Linked DNA regions of Homo sapiens: region 1 is linked to region 2. Evidence: fine-mapped expression QTL. A gene starts in region 2. The other region holds a variant in brackets. All regions are shown on one strand. Distances are from middle to middle.

The links.
Region 1: its variant is fine-mapped to the expression of SGSH in whole blood (INTERVAL, PIP above 0.99). The same link has a PIP of 0.9 or more in monocytes.

What each region holds. Positions count from the first base shown.
Region 1 is chr17:80,195,812-80,204,794 of GRCh38, reverse strand. It overlaps CARD14 (caspase recruitment domain family member 14), which reads right to left. Exons shown (of 24, transcript NM_001366385.1): 15 at 6,633-6,696; 16 at 6,204-6,396; 17 at 2,925-3,051; 18 at 2,375-2,615; 19 at 910-973; 20 at 454-568. It also overlaps a transcript of SGSH not described here. Among named protein-coding and RNA genes, the nearest start is that of SGSH, 20 kb to the left of the region's middle. RefSeq lists an enhancer at 1-209. The variant AT/T (reference allele first, on the strand shown) is at 4,565.
Region 2 is chr17:80,215,881-80,231,752 of GRCh38, reverse strand. It overlaps SGSH (N-sulfoglucosamine sulfohydrolase), which reads left to right and starts at 11,420. Exons shown (of 8, transcript NM_000199.5): 1 at 11,420-11,527; 2 at 14,561-14,721. The coding sequence starts at 11,440. SLC26A11 (solute carrier family 26 member 11) reads right to left here and starts at 11,326. Exons shown (of 18, transcript NM_001166347.2): 1 at 11,257-11,326; 2 at 10,638-10,837; 3 at 9,959-10,205; 4 at 8,906-9,098; 5 at 8,416-8,501; 6 at 5,837-5,916; 7 at 3,793-3,935. The coding sequence starts at 10,192. RefSeq lists enhancers at 4,946-5,447, 7,926-8,763, 8,764-9,601, 12,259-12,378 and silencers at 11,099-11,168, 11,189-11,458.

The sequences.
Region 1 (8,983 bases), 24 kb after region 2:
AACTTAATCCTGTTTCCTATAGGCCCAAGGGAGGATGGCGGAAGCCAGGGTTTTCTTCCTTCCAAAGGATCTGGGAGAGTGGCACCCTTCTCCTCAGCCATCCTCCAGGGCACAGGGTCCTAGCCCTCCCTCTGTCCTGTACTCCTCTCCTGAAATTTTTTTTTTTTCCTGAGACAGAGTTTTGCTCTTATTGCCCAGGCTGGAGTGCAATGGCACCATCTCGGCTCACTGCCACCTCTGCCTCCCGGGTTCAGGCGATTCTCCTGCCTCAGCCTCCCGAGTATCTGGGATTACAGGTGTGCGCCACCACACCCAGCCCCATGATTCTTGAAGACCAGATCCTGGCCTAAATGAGTGGCATCCCCCTGCCCCAGCTGACCAACTAGCAGCAGCTCCCAAAGCCCCTCACCCACTTGGAGCCAGTGGCCCCTGTGCCAGCTCACCAGGCCTCACCCTCCATCCTGCTGGGGTCCAACTGGCCCCTGTCAAAGGACAAACGCAGAGGGCTGGCCTTGGCTTTGTCCATACTGACGATGCGGACCAGCTTCTGTGGTCCCCCAGAAGATGGCTAAAGGAGGGACAGAGAAAGGATGAGGAGGAGCTGTTGAAGCCATCAACAGGAATGGGAATTCAGGGGAGATGATTGGCACTAGGGCGACCTGGGAGTGATGCAGAGGCGCAGATGCTCTGAGAACAGCCTGAGGTGTGTCTGCACTTGTGCAAGAGCCTGCAGGCTGGGCAGGGGCTGCAGACCCTGCCCTGGTTTGAAGGGGTGCAGAGGAGAGACAGGTGGGGTTACCCTCCAATCAGCAGCCCACTCTCCACACAGTGCCTCCTGCCACCCTGCCAGCACCGAGCCCCTCTTCCAGCCCACCCCAGTGGGGTCCAGGCCCCTCCCTGGAGCCTCACCTTGCGGGTCACGGTGCACTGCTGAGTCATGTCCTGGATGAGGGCTATGAGCTGCTGCTGAGCCCTGCAGAGACCAGCAGAGGCCCTGACCCAGCTGCCTCCTGCCAGGTGAGCAGGGCAGGGGAGAGCCGAGCAGGGGAGAGTGGGGGAGATGGCCGGGTGGGAGAGAAGGGCCTCCACCTAGAGCTCCACACATCCCTTTGCTGCAGGCTGGAGCGCTCCATCCTGGCGGCCATGCCAGTCTCCAGAGCTTTCAAAAGACTCCAGGGCCTCGGCCCACCCCTGGAGATGCTGATTTACTTGTCCTGGGGCGGGACCCAGGGGGTGCTGTTGAGCAGCCAGCGTACAGGGCCCCACTCCAGGACCTCAATATTCATGGTGGGTCCCTGGCCTGCAGCCTGGAGTCACCGAGAGAGCTGTTAGAAATGCAGAGTGCCAGGCCTCTCCCTGGACCTGCTGGCTCCGATCCCCAGGGGACTTGAGTTTGCAATGAGTGATGGGGGTGCTGAGCTCAACACTCCTGCTTTCTAGCACTGTGCGTTCCGTGCACTTGAAACTTGGAGCCTCCCATAGGCTGATCTAGAACAATGGTTTCCTTTTCTTTTTTTTTTTTTTTGAGACAGAGTCTCACTCTGTCGCCCAGGCTGGAGTGCAATGGCTCAATCCCGGCTCACTGCAACCTCTGCCTCCGGGGTTCAAGTGATTCTCCTGCCTCAGCCTCCTGAGTAGCTGGGATTACAGGCACCTGCCACCACGCCCAGCTAAGTTTTTTGTATTTTTAATAGAGACAGGGTTTCACCAGGTTACCCAGGCTGGTCTCGAACTCCTGACCTCAGATGATCCACCCGCCTCGGCCTCCCAAAGTGTTTGGATTACAGGTGTGAGCCACCATGCTCGGCCTAGAGCAGTGGTTTTCAATGGAGCAAGGCAGGGGGCAATGTCACTCCCCAGGGAGGGTGACCAGCTGTCCCTGCTTGCCCAGGACCGAGGGGCTTCCCTGCAAGTGGGGCTTTCAGTGCTAAGACCAAGACAGTCCTAGGAGAACCAGGGGACCCTTGGCAACCTATAGAGACATTTCTGGTTGTCACAGCTGGGGCATGGGAGTAGTCCCGGCATCCTGGGTAGGGCGGCCAGGGATGCTGCTCTATATCCTGCAGTGCCCAGGACGGCCCCACCACAGACGGGGATCCAGCCCCAAACGTCCATGGTACCAAAGCTAAGAAACCCAGAGCTAAGAAACCCAGATCTAGAATGTTCTAGAATGAACATTTCATTTGCAATATATAAAGCATCCATCACAAAGAAACAACATCTTCAGCAGTGATCTTGGCAGGCTTCCCTCCTTAGGGGGGTCTCACCACGCCCACCCTCTATTGCTGGGCAGGAGGAGGAAGCCGAGGCAGGCTGGGTGCCATTTCCCTGTGGGCCTCTCTGGGGACGCACCGAGCTCGAGGCAGCTGCTCACCTGGAGTAGTTGGGGATGGTGCCGTGCGCGGCAGTATCCTTCATGGTGTAAGAGTTCACGCGGTGGGCATGCCAGCAGCCGCAGCCCTGGAACATGGTGTCGGTGACGTGCAGGACCTCGTTGCAATGCACCTGCAGCTCCCCTTTGGCCCTGCCCTCCATGGCCAGGTTGACCCGGATGTAGAATGAGTCCCCCGAGGTCGCCACTTTGGCCTCCAGGTCCTGGAGTAGCCTCTTATAACCTGATAAAAGGGGACATGAGCCACAGATGAGCCACAGATACGAGCCTCTGCGAGGAAGGTTGCAGAAAATTAAAGTAGGAGAGAAGGAAGGACCCTCCCAGTCTCAGAAGCTGCTCTGGCACTGGAGTCAGTGGGTGGGAGGTTTCCAGCTGGCTTGGGGGCCTCCTGGGGACCTGGGGCACAGCCTGGCTGATCCTCTCTTGGCTCTGGGGGTCCCTGGCTGCTGGGCGTGCAGAAGAACCACCAGGGACTTAAGGGTCATGGAGTCTGGCCAGGCAGCTGTGCACACGAGAGGAGTGGTATGTGTACCGTCCGTGTTGACCTTCACAGACAGGCAGCAGAAGCCGTCCACCCTCCTGAGAAGCCCCACGGCCTCCTCCAGGGTCGTGTCCTCCAGGACTGCCTTGAACAAGGGCTCTGAGGCTTCGTAATCAACCTGAGGGCAAGTCGAGAAGGTCAGTCTCTTTCCCCCGGGACTCTGAATCCAGCCAGAAGACAGAAGGCGCTGAGGGCACTGAGGCGAGGCGCGGGCCAGCCCTGCCGTAGGACCACTGCCTGCACGCCTTGGTCAAAACAAAGCCACACACCAGAGCCTCTGTGGGGCCTTCACACCTCTAGTGATGCGTGCTACACATAGTGCTGGCCAGAGAGTCAACTGCCAACCCTTCCCCAGTCGAGATCGGGGGTTCTTTGTGATAAGCACTTTCCTGTCTTGAAAAAGAAAAGAAAAGAAAAGAAAGAACCTCGGTTCTAGAACATTCAAGAGCATTCTAGATAGAGGTTTCTTAGCCTTGGGATCATTCTGTGCTGCTGCGGGCTATACCGGGCCCTACAGGATGCTGAGTGGCATCCCTGGCCTTCACCTACCCGATGCCCTGGCTCTCCACCCACAGCCTTCCCCACTGTGAAGGCCCACCCCCCAGGGCTTCCACCATCCACTTCATTTCTTCTCAATATTGTTCTAAGCTTAGGAGAGTAGATATTTTTACAATAAAAATTAAGATGTGTTTTAACACCATTAGAATCTAATTGGCCCCCTTAGGATATCGGGACTATCTCCCTGAACATCGTCAAGGGGCTCTGTTGCTTGAACTACCTCAGAGCTGATAATTGGGAACCTTAAGAGCAGGGTTCCCCAACCCCTGGGCCACATACTGGTACTGGTCCATGGTCCATCAGGACCCGGGTCACACAGCAGGAGGGGCGTGGTGGGCAAGTGAGCATTACGGCCTCAGCTCCACCTCCTGTCAGCTCAGCACAGCAGTAGATTCTCAGAGGAGCATGAGCCCTATCGTGAACTGTGCAAGTGAGGGATCTAGGTTTCACGCTCCTTATGAGAATCTAATTCCTGATGATCTGTTACCGTCTCCCATCACCCCCAGATGGGACCGTCTAGTTGCAGGAAAACAAGCTCAGGGCTCCCACTGATTCTGAATTATGGTTCAGTGTATGATTCTTTCATTACATATTACAGTGTAATAATAATAGAAATAAAGTGTACAATCAATGTAACGTGCTTGAATCATCCCAAAACCATCCCCCACAACCCGGTCTGTGGAAAAGTTGTCTTCCATGAAGCCGGTCTCTGGTGCCAAAAAGGTTGGGGACTGCTGCTTAAGAGGACAACTAGAAATGTAAAGAAGGGCTGGGCATGGTGGCTGATGCCTGTAATCCCAGCACTTTAGGAGGCTGAGGTGGGTGGATCACTTGAGGTCAGGAGTTCGAGATCAGCCTGGCCAACATGGTGAAGCCCTGTCTCTACTAAAAATACAAAAGTTAGCCGGGTGTGGTGGCGGGCACCTGTAATCCCAGCTACATGGGAGGCTGAGGCAAGAGAATCGCTTGAACCCAGGGGGTGGAGGTTGCAGTGGGCCAAGATCGAGCCACTGCACTCCAGCCTGGGCGACAGAGCAAGACTCTGTCTCAAAAAAAAAAAAAAAAAAAAAAAA[AT/T]GACATGTAAAGAAAGGCTTCCCGGGTCATGTGGAGGACGTGAAGGACGCTTGAATTAGGTGCTCCATGTGCTATCATTGGAGCCCTAGGGGAGCTCAGCATTTGGACAGCCTGTTCCAAGGGGGCAGTGAGGGGTGCATGGAACACTCCTGCCTGAGGGGTTCAGACGCATCCTCTCCCCGCCTCTGTGCTCACCTTCCCACCCCAGAGCCCCCATCCCCAGTCCCCTCCTGGAGGCCGCAGGGTGAGCCTCTGGAATGAGGTGAAGCCCATCTTGCACATTTCTTGGTTTAAAATTTTTTTCATATTAAGAAAGCACTGTGCTTTCCTTTTTCTTTTCTTTTTTTCTTTTTTGAGACCGAGTCTCACTCTGTCACCCAGGCTGGAGTGCAGTGGCACCATCTCAGCTCACTGCAACCTCCGCCTCCCAGGTTCAAGTGATTCTCCTGCCTCAGCCTCCTGAGTAGCTGGGATTATAGATACCAGCTATTTTTTTTTTTTTTTTGTATTTTTAGTAGAAACGGGGTTTCACCATGTTGTCCAGGCTGGTCTCAAACTCCTAACCTCAGGTGATCTGCCTGCTCCAGCCTCCCAAAGTGCTGGGATTACAGGCATAAGCCACCGTGCCTGGCCTTTTTTTTTCTTTTCTTTTTTTTTTTTTTTTTTTTGAGACAAGGCTTTGCTCTGTCACCCAGGCTCGAGTGCAGTGGTGCAATCTTAGCTCATTGCAGCCTCAATCTCCTGGGCTCAGGCATCTGAGTAGCTAGGACTACAGGCATGTACCACTGTGCCCAGAAGTTTTTTTTTTTCCTAAAGTTTAATAATTCTGCTTTTAGGCCACATCAAAGTCACCCCCTGACCATGCAGGCGCCCACCACCACACCTGGCTAATTTTTGCATTTTTAGTAGAGACGGGGTTTCGCCGTGTTGGCCAGGCTGGTCTTGAACTTCTGACCTCAAGTGATCTGCCTGCCTCAGCCTTCTGCTGGGATTACAGGCGTGAGCCACCACACCTGGCCAGGTTGTATATTTGTGTCCATTTATCTTCTCAGCAGTTTTGTGCGTTTCGTAACAACAACAAAAAAAAGTTTTAGAAAATGTCCCCAAATTAGCCGGGCACGGTAGCGCATGCTTGTGGTCTGGTCCCAGCTACTTAAGAGGCTGAGGTGGGAGGATCAATCGAGCCTGGGGAGGTCGAGGCTGCAGTGAGCTGTGATCGCACCGCAGCACTCTAGCCTGGGTGACAGAGTGAGACCCTGTTTCAAAACAACAAACAAAAAAAAAGAAAGAAAAGAAATGCCCCAGTGGTTAAAATAGTGAATTTTATGTCACGTGTATTTTACTGTACACACCCAAAGTGACCACCCAGAGCAGCCCTGTCAAGGGGCCTCATGCAAAGACCCCTGGTCAGAAGCGCCGCATGGCAGCAGCACCACGGGTGACATGCTGGGTTCTGCACGGCACGACTCTCATCTATAAATGAGCAGAACGCTTTACGTCAGCCCAGGAAAGAGCAGAGGCCCAGCCCAGAGTGGATCTGCATCGTCTGGGGGAGGTGAAGTCTGCCTGGGTCACCCCACCCGCTGCCACTGTCCCCATGAGGAGCCCGGGGGACAGGAGGGGCCTCGCACGGCTCACCATCACAATCTGGGTGCCCGGGCGCAAGGCCATCTGGTCCGCCGCCGAGCCCGGGGTGACCCGGTGGATGAAGATGCCCGTGAGGTTCCCGCCGATGACGCTGATCTGCTCCAGCAATGCATCCCCCTGGAACGCCAGCATGGTGACCTGGCTCAGGATCCTGCGGGCTGGCCTCCGCCGCATGAGGACGCCGCTGCAGGCCGGGAGACGACCGGCTTGTGCACTGCCCAGAGCAGGAGAGCCGGCAAGGCCACCTCCCCATTGCTTCCCTCTGGCCCCAGTGTTCTGGAATTCTCCTCCCCCTCCATGGCCCCATGTGCTTGGAAAGGCTGTTGCCTCCCATTGGTAATAGGACACTCACCCTCTGCTCTGCCACTCCCTGGCCCTGGTTCCCCAGCCAGCCTCGGAGGATTCCCACCTGCTGCTTACCTCTCCGAGACATCAAGCCTTCCAGGGGAGACTGGCTGCAGGCTGCTTTCCAGCTGCGGAAGGTCTGGGAGGAAGCCAAGAGCTCACAGATCTTGGTCACCCCACTGCTGATGGGGCGTCCTGTAACCTCCTGTAACCTCAGCCCCTTCTTCACAGATCTTGGTCACCCCACTGCTGATGGGGCGTCCTGTAACCTCCTGTAACCTCAGCCCCTTCTCCCTCAGCCTCAGGCCCCACTGCCTGTTCCATCCTTTGTGCTGAGGCTGAACTTTCTCTTCCTCCACCCCTTCCTCAATGCTTGGGACCTTGATTTCATCTTTCCTAAAATCACTGTAACTAGTGAGGAGCTGCAACTGGGAGGGTCTGACCACCACATGCTATTTTGTGATATTTGAATGAGTTGCCAACATTTGAAAGACAGGGAGGTTTCACCTAAAATCTGGATTTCTGGCTTCACTTGAAAAAATATCTGCTGTAACCCTGGGGCTGCATTTCCGCACTGACCTGTATTTCTGCATGGACCTGCATTTCAGGACTGGCCTGCATTACTGCATTGACCTCCATGTCTGCGTGGGCCTGCACTGCACTGGCCTGTCTTTCTTTCTTTCTTTCTTTCTTTTTTTTTTTTTTGAGACAGAGTCTCACTCTGTCGCCCAGGCTGGAGTACAGTGCCGTGATCTCAGCTCACTGCAACCTCCGCCTCCCGGGTTCAAGCAATTCTTCTGCCTCAGCCTCCTGAGTAGCTGGGACTAGAGGCATGTGCCACCACGCCCAGATAATTTTTGTATTTTTAGTAGATACGGGAGTTCACCATGTTGACCAGGCTGGTCTCGAACTCCTGACCTCATGATCCACCCACTTTGGCCTCCCAAAGTGCTGGGATTACAGGCATGAGCCACCACACCCGGCCCTGGCCTGCCTTTCTACATGGATCTGTATTTCTTTTGTTGTTGTTGTTATTGTTGTTGAGACTGAGTCTCGCTCTGTCGCCAGGCTGGAGTGCAGTGGTGCGATCTTGGCTCACTGCAACCTCCACCTCCCAGGTTCAAGTGATTCTCCTGCCTCAGCCTCCTGACTAACTGGGACTACAGGTGTGTGCCACCATGCCCAGCTGACTTTTGTATTTTTAGTAGAGACGAGGTTTCACCATGTTGGCCAAGATGGTCTCGATCTCTTGAGCTCATGATCCGCCCACCTTGACCTCCCAAACATGGACCTGCATTTCTACCCAGACCTGCACTACTGTACTACACGGCATTTCCACACTGGCCTGCATTTCCACACTGGCCTGCATTTCCACACAGGCCTGCATTTCTGTGTGGCCGCAATCACTGGCACTGGCCAGCAGCTGCCTGCTCCTTACCCCAGACTCCTCTGCTTCCCAGCTGGTGGTGGCAGGTCTCTGAGTTGTCAATCCTAGGACTAGAGGCTCCCCAGGGTCTCCCAAGCTCTAGCATTTTACTGTACAGCCTGTGAGCCCCCGAACCAGGGAGCAGCCTGCCAGGGTCGACGGCTGCAAGTCTCACTCTGTGAACCACACAGCAGAGCCAGGGCCAGCAGAGACCTGAGAGTTCCCTAGGCCTGGCTCACAGGCAAAAACCCATTGGGATCACATTCAAAGCCAATGAAATGAGCTGTGTACTCTGGATGTATTTGAGGTCAATTCCACTAAAAGTATATGCAACCAGGGCATTACGCAGAATCCTCACAGAGGAAAAATAAAGAGGAATAAGCCCCTCTTCTCATCTCACATCTAATTTAGATATGCCTTGGGTGGTCTCTCTCGATTTATCACGATTATAAATAAAAACGTGTATGAGTCCCCAAAGATGAAGATTTCTGATTCTGCGACCCACAGAAGGCACAGGGGCAGCGCAGGGCACTTGCGCCCCCTGGTGGCCATGGGGTGAATTCCAAATGGGGAGCAAAGCACCTACTGTGTGCAAGGCCCAAGGCTGGGAGCCGGTCGCGCCGAGGTGGAAAGGATTAAGGCACCCACCCATGACGGGCCCATGGACTTGGGAAGCAGAGAGGGCCGGTCCAATCACAAACAGAAATGAGCTACAGGAGAAGCGCGAGGCCTCAGGGCCAGCGCCTGAGAGGAGAGATGCTCCCCGCAGGTAGATGTCACGCTGTGCCTCGCCTCAGCCTGGCACCACTAAGCCACCCTGCCTGCTGCCTTCTGAAACCACTGGGAAGCCCAAGCGTTACAGATCAGAGCAGGGGGCTGGGTGCTGAGCAGGGCGTGGATCAGACACAACTCCCCTGGCTCTAGGGAAAAACACAAGGACACCAGCAGACAGAGCGCAGCCGGCCTTTGGCTTACGCTGGCTGGCAGGCGGGACTTTCCC
Region 2 (15,872 bases):
AATTGGGAAACCCCCAACTATTTGGAAACTAAATAACTCCCATGGTTCACAGAAGAAATCATATAATCCACTTCTAAATAATCCACAGGTCAAAGGAGAAGTCAAAATGGAAATCACAAAGTATTTAGAACCGAATAAAAATTAAAGAACAGCATATATATAAAAACTGTGGGATGCAGCTAAAGTAATGCTAGGAGTGAAATTTACAGCATTTAAACAACCATATTAGAAAAGAAGAAAGGTCTCAAATCAAAGATCCAGGCTTCCACCTTAAGAATCTGAAAAAAAAGGCCGGGCACAGTGGCTCACGCCTGTAATCCCAGCACTTTGGGAGGCTGAGGCGGGTGGATCACCTGAGTTCAGGAGTTCGAGACCAGCCTGGCCAACATGGTGAAACCCCGTCTCCACTAAAAATACAAAAAATTAGCCAGGCATGGTGGCATACGCCTGTAATCCCAGCTACTTGGGAGGCTGAGGCAGGAGAATCACTTGAACCCGGGAGGCGGAGGTTGCAGTGAGCTGAGATCACACCATTGCACTCCAACCTGGGGGACAAGAGCGAAACTCCGTCTCAAAAAAAAAAAATTTTTTTTGAAAAAAAAAAAAAAAAAGGATAAAGTTAACTGAAAATAAATAGAAGAAAGGAAATAATAAAGGCCCAAGCAGAAATCAATGAACTAGAAAACCAAAGCAAAAGGGAGATCAATGAAACCAAAGGTGGTTCTTTGAGAGGATCATAACATTGACACACTTCTAGACAGACCATTCAGAAAAAAAGACAGACGACTCGGGTGAAGTCCTTGTTCTGCCTCTTCCCAGTCGTGTGGCCTTGAGAAGTTCTGTTTTATTTTTCATCTTTCATAGGCTCACTTTCCTCACTGACAAAATGGAAAAAATAATAAACTCATTCTCAAAGCTGTTATAAGAATCAAAAGCTTTTTAAGTAGTTTCCTAAGACAATGCTACACACACTGGGGAGAAAGGAGTCAGCAGCCCTACACTGTAAATGTTTCTGAAGTTTCTGTACATTACGATGTCTAGACATCTTAAAAGACCTTTCTGGCTGCGGAGACACTGCCTTCAGGGTTAGGCAAGTACTAGAGAAAAAAGCAGCCCCAAGTGTGTCTCTGATATGCCAGCTAACCCCTCTGGAGCCATCCTTCCTCCACCAGCCTGGCCTGCACCCCAGGAGGCAAGATTTTTCTGCCTTAAGCCTGAAACCCACCAAAATTCCTCCAACTGCAAGTCCTAAGCTGGTCGCCTTTCTTCACCTTGCCTTTATCAAGAAAATCTCGATAAAGGCTGTGGCCTAAACCACAGCTTTGGCTTCTCCTCCTGGCCACCCTGGTGTCCTCTGACATGGCCCTACGTGGCATGCTGTGCCTCCTGTCTCTAGGACCTGTGAGTATAATAAACTGGTTTTCTTCCTGAGCCTTTCGCTGTCTCCCCTTGTGGCCACACCTGCCTGATCATCTCATAAAGTCATACAAAACAAGTCTCTGAAAAACATGGGGTCTCTAAGCATTTCCCAAACTTTGACTTTTTTTTTTTTTTTTTTTGAGAAGGAGTCTCGCTCTGTTGCCAGGCTGGAGTGCAGTGGTGCAGTCTTGGCTCACTATAACCTCCGCCTCCCGGGTTCAAGTGATTCTCCTGCCTCAGCCTCCCAAGTAGCTGGGATCACAGGCACACACCACCACACCCAGCTAATTTTTGTATTTTTAGTAGAGACGGGGTTTGGCCAAGCTGGTTTCAAACTCCTGACCTCAGGTGATCTGCCTCCCTCGGCCTCCCAAAGTGCTGGGATTACAGGCGTGAGCCACCATGCCCGGCTTCCAAACTTTGACTTCTAAGCTGACCCCATGAATCCCCTGGGCGTGCCCTGAAGAATACAGATCCTGATTCGGAGATCTGGGGTGGGGCCTGAGATCCTGCCTTTCCAGTAAGCTCCCAGGAGATGCCCAGTGCCCAGGCTGCTGGTCCCAGGCCACACTCTGAGTCTCAAGGTTTAAGATAACAAGGCATAGGCCAGGCGCAGTGGCTCACGCCTATAATCTCAGCACTTTGGGAGGCTGAGGCGGGCGGATCACTTGAGGTCAGGAGTTCGAGACCAGCCTGGCCAACATGGTGAAACCCCATCTCTACTCAAAATACAAAAATTAGCCAGGTGTGGTGGTGCACGCCTGTAATCCCAGCTACTCGCGAGGCTGAGGCGGGATAATTGCTTGAAACCAGGAGGCAGGTTGCAGTGAGCCAAGATCACGCCAGTGCACTCCAGCCTGGGCAACAGAGTGAGACACCGTCTCCAAAAAAAACCAAAAAACAAAAGATAACAAAGATAACAAAGCATTTTCACTATTTCACGGACAACTGAACTAAAGCTCAGGAACTTTGGAAGCTACTTTGCAAGTCTAAACCCAGGCCAGGCTGGGACTGGAAGCTGGACATCTCCACTCTAAACCCAGCATCCTCTGCACCCCACCAGACTCTCAGTGTTCACCACGGCCTCAAGTCTGCTGAACAGGATCCAGGGAGAGACCACAGAGAACAGACCAGCCTGGGCAGGCAGAAGTGACTCAAGAGCTAAATCCAGCCACCCTCTCTCTTCTGTGGCTGTTGGATTTTGCAGCCCCCAAACAGCAAGACCAAGCTCGGGTTATTCTGAGCTTAATCTGTCCCCTCGGCTCTGAGAAGGTTTGGAGTCACCTATGCTTCCTGACTTTCCTGGGTGTGCCTTCTTCTCTGGGCATCCCTGCCCGGTGCTCAGCCAGGGGACCCATGCCCATCCCGGATGCACTGAGAAGAGGCTTCCACCTCCCCCAGGGTGGTCCTTCACCTGCTGACAGCCCTGCTCCTCCACGACGCAGCCCTCACCACCCCTTTCTCAAAGGACCCCTGGTTGGTTGTGGCTCAGCCTGCAGCCTCCGCGCCTGAAGCTGAAGTTGTACCCCCATAAAGCTGCACAATTCAAACAGAGCCTGTTGGTCTCCCCGGAATTTGTTCTGTCTCCCCAGGACCTGCCAGTAGACTGTGTTTCTCCACCTCGGCACCGCCGACATTTTGGGCCGGATCACTGTTTGCTGTGGAAGGCTGTGCGCCGTCAGGGGCTTAGTGGCATTCCTGGCCCCTCCTCGCTAGTTGCCAGCAACTGCCTCGCCCGGTGGTATCCACCAAAAATGTTTCCCAACATTGCCACGTGTCACCAGGGGGCAAAACTGCTTCAGGTTGAGAACGGCCACAGCTGGCCATGCATCAGTTCTCAGCTCTGACCCTGCATCAGAACCCACCGAGTTTGGCTCAGAGTTTTAAATGTTCTAGAGTTTGGGTCGGGGCGGTGGCTCATGCCTGTAATCCCAGCACTTCGGGAGGCCGAGGCAGGCAGATCACTCGAGGTCAGGAGTTTGAGACCAGTATGGTCAACATGGTGAAACCCCGTCTCTACTATAAATACAAAAATCAGTCGAGCGTGGTGGCATGCGCCTGTAATCCCAGCTACTCAGGAGGCTGAGGCAGGAGAATCACATGAACCTGGGAGGCGGAGGTTGCAGTGAGCCAATATCACACCACTGTACTCCAGCCTGGGCGACAGAGCGAAACTCTGTCTCAAAAAATAATTAATTAATTAATTAAATAAAAAGTACATGTCCCAGAGTTTGGTGTGGTGTTTTAAATGTCCCAATGCTCAAGTGACACCCAGACCAATGACGTGAGAATCCCTAGGGTGGGACTAGGACTCCCCAAGTGACCCCAACCTGCAGCCAAGGTTGCATAAGATGTCAGCCAGAGGCCCCTCACCTGTCGTGGCAGCCCAGACCAGCCCACGGCTGAGCCGCACACCAGGGGGCATCTCGGGGTGGACGGGAGGCACGTGGTCCCGCATCAGCTTCAGCACCAGCAGCAGCAGCATGCAGACCAGCCCCAGGACGGCGTCACCTACCCTGTGGACAGGCAGAGGACTGGTCACCACCCAGCTCGGCCCAGGCCTACTGCTGACTCAAGCATCCTGCTGCTGCTTAAGCTGAGAGGCACTAAGAAGCTCCCAGGGAGGCCCAATGCCCAGGCTGCTGGTCCCAGACCACAGTGAGTATCACAAGGAAATAAAGCATTTTCAATATTTTCACCATTTCACAGACACTTAACTAAAGCTCAGGAACTTTAGCAAGCTACTCTGCAAGACCAAACACAGACTAGGCTGAGATGTTTTCTCCTAAGCAATATGCATCCCTGTTCTACTTCAAAACTCAATTCAAAATTCAGTAAGTACACAGGCTTGGGCAGGACAGGCAGTGGAGAGGCCCGGGTCATGATGATGGCAGAGCGACGTGCTCACATTTTCACTCCCGTAGCTCTCTGGGACTCAAGTCTATGGAACAGGATCTGGTGAGTGACCACAGGGAATGGGGACCAGCCTGAGCAGCTGATGCTCTCTGCAGGTGGCTCTAGAACAAGTCTGCCAAACCCACAGCCTGTGGGCCATGTGCAGCCTGGGATGGCTTTGAATGTGGCCCAACACAAATTTGTAAACTTTCTTAAAACATTATGAGTTCTTTCAATGATTTTTTTGTAGCTCATCAGCTATCATTAGTGTATTTTAAGACAATTCTTCCTGTGTGGCCCAGGGAAGACAAAAGACTGGACACCCTGCTCTAGACATTCTAGAAGGCTTAGGACTAAACGGTCAGTAAGGCCCCTTTTACATGACAGCCCGTGACGCTCTCTGACTGGTCAGGCTCCGTAATCACTGCTCCCCCATCTGGCCGACCCCTGCCCACTGGTGCCTCTGAAGAGCAAAGAACCCACTGGCTTCCAGCTGGGTTCAGCTGCTGGGAAGCTTCGGCAGCAGATCAGAGGGGAGGGGAAGATGGTCCAGGATCGCCCCCACTCCCTCCAGGCCACAGCACTGGGCAGCCATCTCTATAGCTCCCCTAGATCATTTCCTCCTCCAGCCCCTTCCAGCCAGAGAGGTAGAGAGGCATCCTGCCTTCCCGCTGGATGGTCTGGCAGGGAGGTACCCCTCATCAGAGGCTTTTCTTTTCGGGGGGGCAGGGCAGGGCGGAGATGGAGTCTCACTCTATCACCCGGGCTGGAGTGCAGTGGCGTGATCTCAGCTCACTGCAACCTCCGCCTCACAGGTTCAAGCAATCCTCCTGCCTCAGCCTCCTGAACAGCTGGGACTACAGGCACGCACCATCACACCCGACTAATTTTTGTATTTTTAGTAGAGACGGAGTTTCACCATGTTGACCAGGCTGGTCTTGAACTCCTGACCTAAGATGATCTGCCCACCTGGGCTTCCCAAAGTGCTGGGATTACAGGTGTGAGCCACAGTGTCCGGCCATCAGAGGCTCTTTAAACCACCTGAGGGAAGTGCTTGGGTCGCCTCATCTCTCATCACAGCTCCACCTGCCGTCCCTGCACCACCTGCGTTCTGTCTGGGTTAGCTCCCCACGCCCTGTGTTCTCCTCCTTAACAAATCACAGCCTGGGGGAGACACACTGCCTTCTTTTTCTTTACACAGACTCTCCCCATTCCTGTCCCCCAAGAAAGCTTTGTGGAGAGAGGAACATTGCCCTGCTCCAGCTCCCCAGAGCAGAGCTTCTTGAACTCTCCCCTGCGCGCAGACCACCGGCCTCCTGTTAAAACTGTGGCTCTGATAGGGCAGGTCTGCAAAGGACTGAGAGTCTCATTTCTTGCCAGCTTGCAGGTGCTGCTGATGGGGCTGCTCTGGGGACCCCTGTTTGAGCAGTCACCAGGGGTGGGGAAACTGAGGTGGGGGCCGGGAGAGGAGGTGTGGAAGAAGGAGCTTCCTTATAGGAGGGAGGAACAAAGCCCGGGGTACCTGGTCTCTGCAATCCTGAGGAAGGTGTGGTACACCTGCAGGAAGAACGGCCTGGGGATGTTCTGTAGTCCCAGCAGGTTCTGTCCAAACACAGAGATGCTGATCAGAGGCTATGCTCCCAAACCAAGGCCATCTGTCCCCAGCTCCCCGCCCACCTCCCCTAGGGCTGAGACAGTGTCCCCCGGCCCTGCTCCCAACCCTTATTCCCGGGGCCCATCTTAGGGGCTCAGGGGTCCACCTGCCCACTCCCAACGCCCCCTAGGGCAGGAGATCAAAGCTACCCTCGTGGGAGACAGTACTTCACAATTACTGGGTCAGTGATATGTTTTTCTCTAAATTACTTTTCTCATAAAAAACAATGTAGGTGACCCCACAGCAGGCAGACAGGTTCTACAGCTTGATGGCCAGGGGCCATGGGCTGCCTGGCCCCACCCCCATTGGCTCCAGGCCACTCAGCAGCCAGGCCCCCTGCAGTGTAGACCCTTGCTGCCATTGGCTTGAGAATGTCTCCCTCACTAGGTGCCCCGCCACCCCCCAGCTCCGCTGCTGCGGGAGGAAAAATCTCTTCGTAGTGTGCAGATGTGGAGGGCTCTGAGGGGCTTCAAGAAACCAGCTTGGGGAATCCTCGGCAAAGTAGGAGCCTCCCACCACGATACCAGCTCTGAGGTCCTGGGCAGGAGAAGGCACTCTATCCTGTGTTTTAGTTTAGTTTTTTTTTCTTTAGAGAGCGGCGGGGGGTTGGGGGGTGGGGGTCTTGCTTGCTCTGTGGCCCAGGCTGGATTCGAACTCCTGGGCTCCAGTGATCCTCCCACCTCGGCCTCCCACGTAGCTGGGATCCACAGTGCAGGCACAGCTTGCACTTTAGTTCTTTACATCGCCTGAGACCCAACAGGAGTCAGAGGGGAAAGTTGAGGCCCTGGATCCCATGGCCACAGGCTCAAGGACCCTGCCCTAAAACTGCTGCGCACAGGGTGGGTGGGGTTAGGACATCCTGGGGGGCGGACTCTGGGACTGTTGGGGTAGGGTCTTCTGTCCTGGGCCTGTCAGGAGGACGCCCCTCCCCCCAGATGGCTGCAGAGTCCCTGGGCGGGGCTAGGGTTGCCAAGTATGAAGGCATGAACAAGGGATGCCTTCCACTCTCCACTCTCCGCTCTCCACTCTCACTGGGATCCTACAAAAGAACATTCTTGACACCAAAAATGATGTTTCCAGATTAAAGAACCAACCATGCCCTGAAACAGCATTTGCCAAGCTAACCCTGAGAGATGCGTGTAGATAACGTACAAATCACGCTCACCCACACCTAAGTTGGTCCCTCCTCTCTCAAATGGAAATAATGATAAATCTACCTCCCGGGGTGTGTTGAGAATTACACATGGAGAGTGTCCTGCCCAGTGCCTCGCACGTAGCAAGAGTGCAAAAAGTGTCTACTTTATTCTCACACTCACACACTCACACTCTCACACTCACACTCTCACACCCACACCCACTCTCACTCACTCACACTCACTCTCACACTCATACACTCACACACGCGCGCGCGCACTCACACTCCCTCACACCCACACCCACTCTCACACTCTCACTCATACACACTCACACTCTCTCACACACACACGCACACTCACTCACACACGCACTCACTCACACACGCACACACTCACACACTCCCTCAAACCCACTCACACTCTCACACACTCACTCATTCACACACTCACACACACTCATACACACTCTCACACACACTCTCCTGTCCTTGGTCTTCTCATGGTACCTCCATCAGGGAAGACTGTCTCAGGCCAGCCTGGAACAGGGCCTGGCTTGGGGAAGATGACCTGCAGTGACACAGGGTCAGGAGGCAGCATGTGACCCTAGTCTGCCATGAGGGCCGCATGGTCCCATCTGTGGAATTGGGCTCACTTCACTCCACACACACCCCACTGAGCACCCCCCTACTGCACCAGCCCAATGCTGGGCGGCCATGGCTGGGAGAAGGACAGTTCCTACCCTCGAGGAACTTACAACCCAGCAAAAACAGAATAAATTACACCCTCAGCTGATGACTGATTTTAGTACTTATTATAAATGTTTTAAAAGAAAATATAAAAGGCATGGCATTTAAAAAATATTAAACAGAAACCAGAAAAAAAAGCACAAAACAAAACCATCTAACTAAATTGGCATGGGGAAATAATTTGCCTATAGAAATTCTAGCAGCATGCTCATGACTGGTGGGGCCTGCTGGGTGTGCCCAGTGCAGGGAGAACAGAGCCACGTCACAGAGCCAGCCAAGCACACTGGCACGGAAACTCGGGCAAGAGCAGGGGGATGGAATTACCGGCCCCCAAGTTACCCGCTGTGAAATCCAACCATCACGTGACATCCCTCCCAGGAGGGTCATTTTATTAACAGGGGACCCATGAGAGCACCGCGTGCTTCTTGACCCATGGAAGACAATCTGAAACAGCAAGACGTCCACTGGCCACAGGGATCAGGACTGGCCTCAGTCCTGCTCCCGCCATCCCTGTGCCAACGAGCAGTGGCCAAAGAGCAGTGCCCTGGGTGGGCGCCGTGCCTACCTTGATCTGTCCAAAGCCGATGGTGACGGCAGCAGCAGAGGTGAAGCCTTTAATGACGGGGTAGGAAATGAAGTCCAGCAGGAACCCTGGCCAGCCAAGAGGGGACATCGAGCTGGTCCCGGCTCCACCCAGTCCCAGAGGATGAGGGGAGATGTGAGCTGGGGAAGGTGGCAATGGGTGGGATTGGGGAGCAGATACCGCAGCTAAGGACTGGGGGTAACACACCCTGTTTGGCTGTTTTTGGAGAGCAGAAAAGGGAGACTGGGGTCTGAGGCCACAGGCACTTCTCCAAGTGTCCTGGCCTCTAAGCAGAAAAGAGTAGACTAAGAGCCAAGTGCCCCACCCCCTCCACCACCCACCCACCTACACACACACACATACATACCCACACCCCAACACGCACACACACGCACACGGGGATAGACTTGAAATGCAAACAAGCAAATGCTGAGGTCGAGGGCATCCCCTTGGCAAGAAGGTAGAGCCTCACCCAAACGCAGGACCCCCATGGCCAGCTGGATGCAGCCGGACAGGAAGGCCAGCAGCACAGCGTAGGCGGGCTCATGGAAGGTGTAGAAGGAGACCAGGAGGGACATAATGGCGGTGGGGCCCAGAGTCACATCCCGGGAGGTGCCCAGGAAGAAATACACGAAGCAGCCCATGAAGGCAGAGTAGAGGCCATACTGTGGGGAGAGAGGGTGGTGAGCACTCAGGAGGCCGAGGCCCATCCACCAGCTCCCTAGTGTGCGTGTCCAAGCTCGGGATGTGTGGGTGTCAGCTGTGTCCAGGCCCAGGTTAAAGGTGCACCGCCCTGCCCTGTGGGTGGACCTGCAGTGATCAGGAGGCCACTTTTTTAGCAGCACTCAACTGGGGCCTCAGGGTGCAGACAGCCAGGCAGAGGGGTCGGTGCAGGCCCGTGTGCTGTGTCCAAGTCTGAGGAAGCATTCTTTTTTTTTTTTTTTGAGATGGAGTCTCGCTCTGTCGCCCAGGCTGGAGGGCAGTGGCACAGTCTCGGCTCACTGCAAGCTCCGCCTCCCGGGTTCACGCCATTCTCCTGCCTCAGCCTCCCAGGTAGCTGGGACTACAGGCACCCGCCACCACACCTGGCTAATTTTTTGTATTTTTAGTAGAGACGGGGTTTCACCCTGTTAGCCAGGATGGTCTCCATCTCCTGACCTTGCGATCCGCCTGCCTCGGCCTCCCAAAGTGCTGGGATTACAGGCTTGAGCCACCGCACCCAGCCTAATTTTTGTATTTTTAGTGGAGACGGGGTTTCACCATTTTGGTCGGGCTGGTCTTGAACTCCTGAGGCCTCCATGAGTCATCTCGCTGGCCCCTCCATAACCAGCTCAGTGTCTGTGTGTGCCAAACAGGCATAGGAGCCTGGGTCGGCCCAGAGACAATCTGCGTCACACACTGTAAACCAAAGGTTCCTTGGGGCCCAGGGGCTGGAAACCTGGAATCGCTGATGGTGTCTGGGATTGATACTGTGTATTCTGCACTGTTTCTGAGATATGGCTGGCAGCAGGGTCAGACGCCTCACCTGGGGCGGGAGTCCAGCCACTTCAGCATAGGCCAGCGCCTGGGGAATGGCAGTGAGGCCAACTGAGAGGCCGGCGACGAAATCCATCTTCAGCCACTGCAGGGAGTAGCTGGGCAGCCACGCCAGGATGGGCAGCCTCCTCTGCAGGGCCGCAGGGGAGCAGCAGCAGGCGCTCGGGGCCATCCCGGGGCCAGAGGACCTGGCCTGACCCAGCGCCGTCACCGAAGAAGGCATCTCTACGGTGGGGCTGGGGGGTGCAGGTGACACAGACCAGCAGTCAGAGCGTGGCCTTTGAAGAACCCGGCAACACTGGTCAGGGTCGGCGGGTGTCAGGAGAGGTCACTATGGGTCTCCCCTCCCCAGGGGGGCGAACGGCTCTAAGAGGAAGCCAACAATGTGTGCAAGATGGGGACTGGGCCAAGACTGGAAGGCCCACCCCGTCCCTCATCACCCTCTCTCCCTGAATCCCCCCCGTGCAAATCCTGGGTGCCTTCTGTCCCTCCATCCTCAACTCTCCCAGATAAGAAACTGATAAGCGATTCCTCATTGAGAAGTCTGAAGACTAATTAGGCTCAACACTTCTGGCCCCTGGAGAACCGACTTCCTTTGCCTTTTTTTCCGTCTCCCCAGGGAATTTAACGGGGAGCAGCGCAGAGAGAAGCTGGGCCCGCGGGCGCACCGTAGGCTGGCGGGGGGTGCGGGTGGCAGCCAGGAGATCCAGCGGGGCTCCGAGGTTTTCCAACTGCGCACCAAGGCGGGCTCCACCCGCTACGGTGGACTGCGGCGCTCGAGGGAGAGTGGGGGGGTCCTCCGCTCCTGAGGCCACGCCTCGCTCAGCCCCCACCTGTGGCTTTCACAGCCCTGGAGTTCTAGTTGCTTCTGGGAGGACATCAGAGGCGCCCGGTTAATTCAGGTGCGCAGCATCTTCCAGGGCCCCGGCGCCCGCGCGCAGAGCCGCCACCCTCACCCCCAGCCCCCCACGCCCCCGGCCGCTCCGCTCCGGGCAAAATCCACTCCCCGGCCCCCGGCCCCGCCCACAAGGCCGCTGGCTCCGGATCCTGGGGTCTCCGGAGGAGACCCTGCGCCACCTGACCGTCCGCGGTCCCTTGGCCCCGAGCAAGGCCGAGGGCCGCGGGGACCCGGGTAGGGACGCGGCGGGGGAGTGGTCCCCACGGGAGGCCCCCGCACTTCAGGACTCCGCGCTGGCCCCCGCGTCGGCTGCCCCCGGCGACCCCGGCCACTGTCCGCTCCCCCTGCCCCTGGTCCCCGCTCGCCGCCCTCGCGGGCCACGGACTCACCCACTCGGCGATGCAGCTTGGGGTCTCCTGGCGTCGCCGCAGCTGGGTCCGCAGGAATCGCCGGGGACAGGCCGGGGCGGGGTCTGGCGCGCACGTGACCGGGGTCGGGGCAGGGGGCGGGGCCGAGCGGGAGACCAGAGAGCCGGAGCCGGATCCCGATCCCGAGTCCGAGCCGCCGCCGCCATGAGCTGCCCCGTGCCCGCCTGCTGCGCGCTGCTGCTAGTCCTGGGGCTCTGCCGGGCGCGTCCCCGGAACGCACTGCTGCTCCTCGGTGAGTGCCGGCGCCGCCCCCCCACGCCCACCTGCGGTGGCCCGGGGAAGTGGCCACTGGCCTCCTCCCCACCCGTGGTCAATGCTGACCCTAGTGTGCCCTGCCCTTGTATCCCCCGCTGCCATTCCCTCTCGTCCTCCTCTCTGTGCCGCCCCCAGACTCTTCACGGGTGTCTCCCCAGAGAGGGCAGCAAAGGCTGGAGGAGTGAGCCCCAGCATCCAGCACCCCTACACTTACCTCGTGCCGCCTGTCCCACCCTCCTCTGACCCTGCCCAGCCAGGGCTCAGGGGTCCACGGATCTCAAATCCCTCTTGGGAGGGGATCCCAGAGGAGGGGCTGGTGCTCCGGTCCCCAGAGACTGCAGACAGGGTGCCCTCCTGGCTCTCATTTCCGACCCCAGAGCCTGTGTCTCAGCTGTCTTTTCCCTTATCCCAAGGGCACAGCCCTCCACCACCCACCCACCACCGTCTCCCCCAACCCCAGTCCCTCTCAGAAACCCCAGGTTCCTCCAGAGCAAGCACCGTGCTGCTCACAAGACTTCCGGTTTAGGTAATCAAGGCTCTGGCTCATGACAAGTGACAAGGCCAAACCCAAGGCCTGCGATTCTTTCCCCTTCTGAGGTCTGGCGCCCTGCCAGTTGCCCTCTTTCTGATTAATTTTGTGGTCTCTGGGCGGGGGTTCGGCTCACTGTAACATAAACAGCTCTCCTGCCAACTCCTCGCCTCCCAGAAACACAGCAGAGAATCTGCATGGACCCTCACCTGCGGATCAGAATTCCTACAGGAGGCTGTCAGAGTCCAGGCTATGCGGCCCCTGGGCTAGGGCCTTTCTTAGCACGGACTGCCATGGATCGGCTTAAACAGAAATGTATTTCTCACAGTTCTGTGGGCTGAAAATCCAAGGTCAGGGTGCCAGCTTGGTTGGGTTCCAGTGAGGGTCCACTTTCGGCTTACAGGTGGTCACCCTCTCACTGTTTCCTCACATGACAAGCGGATGGGGGTGGTCTCACTTCCTTTTCCTTTCTTTTTCCTTTCTTTCCTTTTTTTTTTTTTTTTTTTTTTTTTGTGAGACAGGGTCTCACTCTGTCACCCAGGCTGGAGCACAGTAGCACAATCACAGCTCACTGCAGCCTCAATCTCCCAGGCTCAAGCGATCCTCCTGCCTCAGCCTCCCAAGTAGCTGGGACCTCAAGTGCACATCACCATGCCTGGCTAATTTTTGTATTTTTTGTAGAGACAAGGTCTCACTGTGTTGCCCAGACTGGTCTCGAACTCCTGGGCTCAAGCAATCTTCCTGCCTTGGCCTCCCGGGTGCTGGGCTTACGGGCATGAAACACTGCACCCGGCCCTCTCTTTCTTTTCCTTTAAGTCCACAGTCCTGTCAGATCAGGATCTCATCCTTATGATTCATTTACCCTTAATTAAGGACCCTGTCTCCAGATACAGTGATGTTGACGTTAGGGCTTCAGCATATGAATTCTGGGAGGACACAGTTCAGACCATAGCAGGCCCACAGCCAAGTGCCGAGACACTCTGGGTTTGGAGAAGGGCAGCTTTCTTCCTGGCCTGCGGGTACGGAGCACAGCCCATCCCGCTCTCCCTCCAGGTTTACGTGGCTGCCATGTGCTCACACCTGTGGGTACTGTGGGGTGGAGGATGGAAGCCCAACTGGAAGGTGCCCAGCCTCCTCTGTCCATCCATGGACCACATTGCCTCTGAGGGAGCTGGGGAAAGTGTTGGTCTGGGGGTTCCCACCAGCCTCTCCTGTGGTGCCCCCAGTGTCCTCTACTCCAGAGCAGGGGGAAGAAGCTTGGTGTGGTTGTAGGAGTTCAGCGGCCTGTCCCTGTTTCCTGCTGCCCAGTGTGTGGCCCTGGGCACTGCACCTCACCTTTCTGGGCCTCAGCTGCTTTGTGTAGGATGAAAGGGTTGAAATAGACAACCTGCAAGGTCACTAGGCCTTTGAGATGGCATCAGTGAGAAGCAGCGGTGGGACGCACACACATAGAGCTTTAGACGCGCCCTGGGCGAGGCTCTCCTGCCCTCTGCCCCATGCGGTTTCCGCTGAGCCCAGAATTGCCCAGCAGTTCTGTGGCCATGCGCTCAGCCGCTGTCTGCCTAAATGCCTAGCCGGCTAACACGCCCACCCAGGTAGCATGCCTGCTGGGGTATCATCAAGCTTGTTGGGTCATCATGCCTGCATGAGTATCTTGCCCACTTGGGTACCATGCCTGCCTGCTAACATGCCTATGCAGGTACCAGGCTTGCCTGGGTACCATGCCCATCTGCTTATACCCACCAGCTATCAGTCCAGCCTGTGTACCATGCCCACCTGCCAACATACCCACCGGGTATCATGCCTGCTTAGGGTATCATCAAGCTTATTGTGGTATGATGCCTGCTTATCATGCCCACTTGGATACCATGCCTGCCTGCTAACATACCAACCACGCATCATCCCTGCTGGATACCAGTCTACCTGCTAACATACCCACTGGTATCAGGCCTGCCTGGGTACCATGCCTACCTGCTTATACCCACCATCTATCAGTCCAGCCTCCATACCATGCTCACCTGCCAACATACCCACCATCTATCAATCAGTCCAGCCTCCATACCATGCTCACCTGCCAACATACCCACTGGGTATCAGGCCTGCCTGGGCACCCTGCCTGCTTGCTGATATACCCACCAGGTATTGTGCCTACTAGGTACCATGCCTTCTTGCTAACATACCCAGTGGGTATGGGGTCTTCTGGATACATGCCTGCCTGCTAACATACCCACCAAGTATGAGACCTGCTAACATGCCCTCTGATACCATGCTTGCCTGATGTACCCACTCGGGTGTCATGCCTCCTAGGTAATGGAGTGCTCTGTCACGATAGCATTTCGCGCTGAGTGTTCACACTGAGCCAGTACCATGCCCACCTGGGTGTCTCGCCTTCTGGCATCACAGTCCCAGCCTCCCTCACTCCCAGTGCTGTTTCTCGTGACCGCAGCCGACCGTGCACTCTCTGTCTCCCACCTCACGCAGCGGATGACGGAGGCTTTGAGAGTGGCGCGTACAACAACAGCGCCATCGCCACCCCGCACCTGGACGCCTTGGCCCGCCGCAGCCTCCTCTTTCGCAATGCCTTCACCTCGGTCAGCAGCTGCTCTCCCAGCCGCGCCAGCCTCCTCACTGGCCTGCCCCAGGTGAGGTGCAAGGGGCGGGAGGAGGGGGTGGGCAGGGAGTAGACAGGCTGCGTCCGGGGCCCAGGCCTCTGCCACGTCTCCCATCCCTGGGATCCCGGGGGGTGTTGCCCACTTTCCCTCCCACCTCCAGGAGGAGGCACAGCCTATGGCTGTGAGTGCAGACTAGGGGCTCCGACTCACCCGCCAGCCCTGGCTGCACTGCTGTGTGTGGCCTTGAGCAAGTCACCTACCTCCTTGTGCCTCAGTTTCCTCATCTGTAAGATGGTGGGTGTAATGAGATGCCACTCTAGTTATGGAGATTGGCGGGGCTAATGCTTTGTATGTAAACACTTAGTGCGAGGCCTGGTGGGCTCACTCAGCGTGAACCGCCATGGCCACAGTGTCCCAGGAACGCCATGGTGCAGGGAGCGGACACCGTTAAGGCACACATGCTCCTATTTTACTGTGGTAAAATGCACAAACATCAACATTCCCATCTTAGCCATTTTTCAGCGCACAGTTCCGGGGCATTAAGTGCATTCACAGTGTTATGCAGCCATCACCACCATCCATCTCCAGAACTTTTCCATCTACCCAAACAGAAGCTCTGTCCCATGAAACACCAGCTCCACATTCTCCCTCCCCATCCCCTGTCTCTATGAATCTGACTGCTCCAGGGGCCACATAAGAGTGGAATCACACAGGACTAGTCCTTTTTTTTTTTGAGTTGGAGTCTCACTCTGTCACCCAGGCTGGAGTGCTGTGGTGCGATCGTGGCTCACTGCAGCCTCTGCCTCCCCGGTTCCAGCGAGTCTCCTGCCTCAGCCTCCCGAGTAGCTGGGATTACAGGTGCGCGCCACCACGCCTGTCTAATTTTTGTATTTTTAGTAGAGATGGGGTTTCATCATGTTGGTCAGGCTGGTTTCGAACTCCTGGCCTCAAGTGATCTGCCCGCCTCGACCTCCCAAAGTGCTGGGATTACAGGCGTGAGCCACCGAGCCCGGCCCCCCTTTTGTGTCCTTACTTCACTCAGCACAATGTCCTCAGGGTTAACCATATGCTGTAGCACGAGTCAGAACTTCCCTCCTCTTCAGGGCTGACTCATATTCCAGTGGATGGATGGGCCCCGTATTTTGCTTCTCCATATTCATCCGTCAGTGGGCACTTGGGTT